Homo sapiens: one gene and its partner. The protein of the gene in region 2 interacts with the protein of the main gene of each other region in a pairwise test. Each region holds a gene or a part of one and is shown on either strand. Other genes may lie near its edges.

Evidence for each region. Proteins that work in one complex are often made in the same cells at the same time.
Region 1: the proteins of ASB13 (region 2) and TARDBP interact in binary tests that used the Homo sapiens proteins (3 or more experiments, as listed by UniProt).

Annotation. Positions count from the first base shown.
Region 1 is NC_000001.11:11,019,154-11,022,653, reverse strand, and holds part of TARDBP (TAR DNA-binding protein 43), read right to left. Parts: intron 2,226-3,500; coding exon 2,055-2,225; intron 531-2,054; coding exon 1-530. UniProt on the Homo sapiens protein: RNA-binding protein that is involved in various steps of RNA biogenesis and processing.
Region 2 is NC_000010.11:5,660,096-5,663,595, reverse strand, and holds part of ASB13 (ankyrin repeat and SOCS box protein 13), read left to right. Parts: intron 1-3,500. UniProt on the Homo sapiens protein: May be a substrate-recognition component of a SCF-like ECS (Elongin-Cullin-SOCS-box protein) E3 ubiquitin-protein ligase complex which mediates the ubiquitination and subsequent proteasomal degradation of target proteins.

The DNA.
Region 1 (3,500 bases), on a different chromosome or scaffold from region 2:
TACATTCCCCAGCCAGAAGACTTAGAATCCATGCTTGAGCCAAAGCCTCCATTAAAACCACTGCCCGACCCTGCATTGGATGCTGATCCCCAACCAATTGCTGCACCAGAATTAGAGCCACTATAAGAGTTATTTCCAGAACCGAAGGCCTGGTTTGGCTCCCTCTGCATGTTGCCTTGGTTTTGGTTATTACCCGATGGGCCTGACTGGTTCTGCTGGCTGGCTAACATGCCCATCATACCCCAACTGCTCTGTAGTGCTGCCTGGGCGGCAGCCATCATGGCTGGATTAATGCTGAACGCACCAAAGTTCATCCCACCACCCATATTACTACCTTGATTGTTTCCCAAACCAGCTCCACCCCCTCTGCTATTACCAAATCCACCCTGATTCCCAAAGCCACCTGGATTACCACCAAATCTTCCACTTCTTTCTAACTGTCTATTGCTATTGTGCTTAGGTTCGGCATTGGATATATGAACGCTGATTCCTTTAATGATCAAGTCCTCTCCACAAAGAGACTGCGCAATCTATAAGAAATAAGGGATGTAAACAAAGAAGATTAAACCACTGATTCATATATTTAAAGTAGCAACAAAACTTAGATTACAAGCATTAATTTATCTAAAGCCAGAGGAAAAATAAGCAATGAACACTCATTTCATTTAAACCCCCAATACAGCTTTTAGTTTTATTAACAGCAGCAGTGATATTTCAGTCGATTTTCAAAAGACATAGGCTGGGCATGGTGGCTCATGCCTGTAATCCTAGCGCTTTGGGAGGCCAAGGTGGGAGGACTGTGTGAGGCCAATAGTTCAAGACTAGCCTGGCAGCCTAGACAACACAGGGAGACCCCACCTCTATCAAAAAAAACCACAAAAAAGCCACATTAGCTGGGCGTAGTGGCATGCATCTGTCCTAGCTACTTGGGAGGCTGAAGCTGGAGGATCCTCCCCCTGGAGGCTGAGCCCAGGAGTTCTAGGGTGTAGTGAGCTATGATTACACCACTGTGTTCCACCAGCCTGGGCAACAGAGTGAGACCCTGTCTCAAAATAATAATTTAAAAAATGGGCCGGGAGCAGGAGCAGTGGCTCACGCCTGTAATCCCAGCACTTTGGGAGGCTGAGGGGGGTGGATCACCTGAGGTCAGGAGTTCAAGACCAGCCAGATCAAAACAGTGAAACCCCGTTATCTACTAAAGATACAAAAAACTGGCCAGGCGTGGTGGCTCATGCCTGTAATCCCAGCACTTTGGGAGGCTGAGATGGGCAGATCACCTGAGGTCAGGAGTTCGAGACCAGCCTGGCCAACATGGTGAAACCCTGTCTCTACTAAAAGCACAAAAAAATCAGCCAGGCGTGGTGGCAGGCACCTGTAATCCCAGCTACTCAGGAGGCTGAGCCAAGACAATCGCTTGAACCCATGAGGTGGAGGATGCAGCGAGCCAAGATCGCGCCATCACACTCCAGCCCGGGCAACAAGAGCAAAACTCTGTCTCAAAAAAAAAAAAAAAGTATATAACATTCCCAAATGCCACATACTGAAAATTATCTAAAGGCATATTTACTTTTAGATTTCTTAAAATGTTGTATTTGTGATATCAGATACAGGTATCACAAACATCTAGGCCCATACACCCTACGTCTTACAAGGTCAGAAAACTTAGCTAAGAATAGCAATTAGCTGCATGGGCAATGTTCAAGAGAAATTACCTAATTACCTGGGACATATTTTTTTTTTTGAGACAGAGTCTCACTCTGTCACTGGGCTGGAATGCAGTGGTGTGATCTCAGTTCACTGCCACCTCCGCCTCCTGGGTTCAAGCGATTCCCCTGCCTCAGGCTCCAGAGTAGCTGGGACCACAGGCGTGCACCACCACACCGAGCTATTTTTTTTTTTTTTTGTATTTTAATAGAGACGGGGTTTCACCATGTTGGCCAGGATGGTCTTGATCTCCTGACCTCGTGATCCACCCGCCTCGGCCTCCAAAGTGCTGGGATTGTAAGCATGAGCCACCACGCCCGGCCGGGACATATCGTTAAGGAGAAAAATACCTGATCATCTGCAAATGTAACAAAGGCAAAGGCCCTGAATGGCTTGGGGATGAAGACATCCATCACATCCCCGTACTGAGAGAAGAACTCCCGCAGCTCATCCTCAGTCATGTCCTCTGTACAGCGCCCCACAAACACTTTTCTGCTTCTCAAAGGCTCATCTTGGCTTTGCTGATCAAATCAAAAGGAAGAAAAAAACTCAGAAATATGTTATGAACAATGAAAAAAACATTAAGGTAAGGGATATAACAAAATCATTCGCCTTGGATAGCAGTGAACCATTAAAAAGTAGACGTACCCTTAATTTTTTCCATCAGCATTTCTTTTTCTTGTAAGGCTTCAGTGAAGAGTAACGTTTTAAGTTACAAAAGTACACAGTCATGCATCACATAATGATGGATATAAATACATCATGAGCCATTACACAATTTCATCATCGTGGCCAGGTGTGGTGGCTGACACCTGTAATCCCAGCACTTTGAGAGGCCGAGGCGGGTGGATCACTTGAGGTCAGGAGTTCAAACCAGCCTGGTCAACATGGTGAAACCCCACCTCTACTAATACAAAAATCAGCCGGGTGTGGTGGCAGGCACCTGTAATCCCAGCATCTTGGGAGGCTGAGGTAGGAGAATCACTTGAACCCGGAAGAGGAGGTTGCAGTGAGCCAAGATTGCACCATTGCACTCCAGCCTGAGCAATAAGAGTGAAACTCCATCTCAAAAAAAAAAAAAAAGGGCCAGGTGCGGTGGCTCACACCTGTAATCCCAGCACTTTGGGAGCCCGAGATGGGCGGATCATGAAGTCAGGAGATCAAGACCATCCTGGCTAACACGGTGAAACCCCATCTCTACTAAAAATACAAAAAATTAGCCAGGCGTGTTGGTGGGCACCTGTAGTCCCAGCTACTCGGCAGGCTGAGGCAGGAGAACGACGTGAACCCGGGAGGCAGAGCTTGCAGTGAGCTGAGATTGCACCACTGCACTCCAGCCCGGATGACAGAGTGAGACTCTCTCTCTCAAAAAAAAAAAGTCGTTGTGCAAACATCATATAAACCCAGATAGCATAGCCTACCCCACATCTAGGCTAGATGGTATAGCCTATTGCTCCCAGGCCACAAACTTTCAAGTTACTGTACTCAACACTGTAGGCGACTATAACATGATGGTAAGTATTTGTGTATCTAAACATAGAAAGGGTACAGTAAAAACAGTGTTATAATCCTATGGGACCACTGCTGTACACGAGGTCTGCTGCTGACTGATCAACTTTGCCATGTGATACATGACTGTGTTTGGATTTGAGAAAATTAATAAATAAGCAATCTCTTGGCAAAGATGATGATGTTCCAAATAAGCCAATGTTATTTGTTTGCTTGGAAAAAGTTAGGTCTTTATAACAATTAATGTATGTATTCTGATTCTCTTTATGTTTTAACATATAACTATG
Region 2 (3,500 bases):
TGAAAAGCGTCCCTCAGGTCCCTTAACTGAGACAGGGAGGATGCAGGATCAGAGCTCAGGGGTCCTGAGTCAGGGCCTGAGCTCCCACAGTGCCTTGAGGGTGGGACTGGGGGACCCTCCCCATGCTCCCTGGGCCATAGCCTTTGGGGTGGACCAGGGGCAAGGGAGGAGTCGGGGTAGCAGATAATTGGGTGAGTGATGAGGGAGTCAGGGGAGGAGACATTGAAGGATAATGCAGCGAATCCAGTGTGGTTTTAGCGTCCTGCAGGTGGAAGGAAATGCCTGTTATTCACCAAGCTCTCCTGACACCTTCGGTCCTTTCTCCCAGTTCCTTTACTCCTTAGCCCACCTATTTTCACCTCTTTTCTCCTTGTCTTCTGCTTTCATTTATTCTTTCCCTTTCTTTTCTCCACTCTTACTGAGTTTTGACCATTTTGTCCCTCTAAGAAGGCAAATACTGGCATTTTTGCTTCATTGAACACATCTTAAAATCAGTCTGCTGTTTGACCTCAAGTTTACCGACAAACTATATTTTGGGGATTCATAATGAAAACATTTAAAAAGACATGGTTGAAAAATATCACTGTAGCAACAAAACACTGAGCCCAGACTTGTAAGTGGGAGTTTCTACATAGAAAAATAAAGATCCATATTTTTTTTCCTTGGGTTTCAAGGACACTAAAACTGAAATTTGAGCTGCGCTATTAAAATTTGGTGATAGTGGTTAAGTGCCATGCGTTAGGCACCCTCTTTGTGCTGGGGTTGTCACGTACACTGTCTTTAGTTGTCACCATGAGATCCTTCATTTATCTTTTCCTCTGTGGTCTCTTTGTCTTTGTGGATTTAGCCCCCATTTTATTCCCTTACCGTCACTTGTGTGTGGTTTGGACAGCAGGCAGAGATGAATGGATGCTACATTTGGCTTTTTCTGGGAGTGTTAATCATCCAGGATCTCATCTCTTCTCTTCTCTTCTCTTCTCTTCTCTTCTCTTCTCTTCTCTTCTCTTCTCTTCTCTTCTCTTCTCTTCTCCCCTCCCCTCCCCTCCCCTCCCCTCCCCCCCCCTTCTCGACAGAGTCTCAGTCTGTCGCCCAGGCTGGAGTGCAGTGGCACGATCTCAGCTCACTGCAGTCTCCACTGCTTGGTTCAAGCGATTCTCCTGTCTCAGCCTCCTGAGTAGCTGGGATTATTACTGGGATTACAGGTGCATGCCACCACACCCAGCTAATTTTTGTATTTTTAGTAGAGATGGGGTTTTGCCATGTTGGCCAGGCTGATCTCGAACTCTTGACCTCAGGTGATCCGCCTGCCTCAGCCTCCCGAAGTGCTGGGATTACAGGCGTGAGCCACTGCGCCCAGCCCATCGTCCAGCATTTCTAAGGCCTTTTCAGTTCTGACAGTCAGCGCGTGTTCATGAATCCTTAGCTTTCTGGGACCCTGGGGGGCTATGTCACTCAGGACTCTTGACTTTTCCCTGAGAGCTGAGGATGAGCCCATTGAGAGCAGCATCAGAAAACCCTCCCTGGGGGCTTCCGGTGCCTGCCTTGGTTCTTCCAGGGTGGGTTCCCCAAGTGTGTGCTCGCCCGCCCCAGCCCGGCTTTATGGGTGGGTCAGGGTGGAGGGCCCACCCTCACCATTTCAAGAATGCTTACTGGGGTTTTGCAGGGAGGGCTTCTTACAGAGGCTGCTGGTTGTTTTTGACGCAGAAATGACATTTCTGCAGCCAGGACCCCAGACTCCCCTTGGTGATTTACTCGGAACAAAATTTCTGACTCCAGCAACATTTAAGAGTGCATTCTGGGCTGGGCCTGGGGCTCATGCCTGTAATCCCAGCACTTAGGGAGGCCAAGGCGGGAGGATCACTTGAACCCAGGAGTTTGAGACCAGCCTGGGCAACATGGTGAAACCCTGTCTCTACAGAAAATACAAAAATTATCCAGTGTGGTGGTGGTGCATGGGCCTGTAGTCCCAGCTACTTGGGAGGCTGAGGTGGGAGGATCACTTGAACCTAGGAGGTTGAGGCTGCAGTGAGCCCTGATCACACCACTGCACTTCAGCTTGGGTGACAGCGAGACCCTGTTTCAAAAATAAATAAATAAACAATAAGAAAACAAAATAGGAAAAAAGGTGCATCTTGGGTATTTGACCTGGATTCAAAGCCAGCATGCTACTGGATCAGCTTTGTCTGGAAGGTGTCCCTGGTGGCATTTGAGAATGCTCTTTGTTGGAGTGGGCCCTGACCCTGGAGAGGCCCCAGGCTCGGCGGGGCGGGGTTGGGGGCAAGTGGCTCTGCTGCTTTTATGGTTGCAGTCCCTGTGTGGGTCAAGTGAGGCCCGCCAGTGTGGGTGCAGGCAGGGCAGTGTGGAGGATGGGCTCTGGAGGTGCCCAGCTCTGCAGTGTGCAGGGGCCAGCAGGCCAGCTGCCTCCTAGACACAGGCTCTCTAGGGGGTGGCCGGGCCTGGGCACAGAGCTGCCACTTGGGCCCAACGAGTGGGGCTCTGGCTCTGGGATGACTGAGGAGATACTGGCAAACCAGCTGCCTAGGGGGAAAATAAAGAAAAAGAAACAAAAATAAAAGTCTGCTTTGCTGCTTTCCCTGGTCTAAATACTCACATCCTGGCTGCTTTCAAGCTGCTGGTGGTCTCCGGCCAGCAGAACCTGGCTGTGCAGCAGCCAGCTGGCGAGATGGCCCGGCACACTGCTGGGTGGCTTGCAAGGCAGGGAGCGATGGAGGGGCTCTGGTCTCAGAGGGCCCGGGAACTGAGCAGAAAAATTGGGCAGAGACTCAATCAGTCACCCGACTTAGGTAAGGATTGAGTTACTGGAGCTGGAATGCAAGATTGGGGGGCTTGCTATGGAACAAAGATGAGATGGTAGAACCCGCACCTGCCCTCCCCACAGGACTGGTAGGGTAATAATGACAGCAATGATCCTGGAGCCATGGCAGTGCCTGTTACTCACAGCATTTACAGGTGGCCAGGCACGATTTTCTTCAGTCTTCACAGCACCCATTTGAGGAGAGAGGAGGCCGAGGTTTGGAGAGGGTAAGCTGTGAGACGAGCTTTGAACTCACGAGCAGGGTGGTTCCTGCAGCTTGCCCCTGTAGAGTCTGCTCCCTGAGGGTAGGCTGACCCTGAGCCACTTGACCTGTTCAGCCAGGGCTTCCTAATCTCAAAGGACAGGTCAGTCCTGGGGCAGGGCACAGCCTTAGATGGGAGGGTGTCGGGGCCCCAGCAAAGGGGCAAGAGAGGGGAAGAGGAGCTGGGGTCCAGAAAGGTCCACACCTGGCACACGGTCCTAGCCAGTAAGGTCGTATCGTGGGTGGAAGAGTGGAGAGAACGTTCTGAAGCACGTGTCATTCCTTCTCAAGGTGACGTCTGCCGTAGTCTGCAGTAGATACATAGGTGACATCTGTGAAACTCTAGTTTTCAGGGCAAAGGCTTTTGCTTGGCTATTCATGAGCTCAGGCCTGCAGGCGGCAGGTAAACAGGAGGAGCCATAG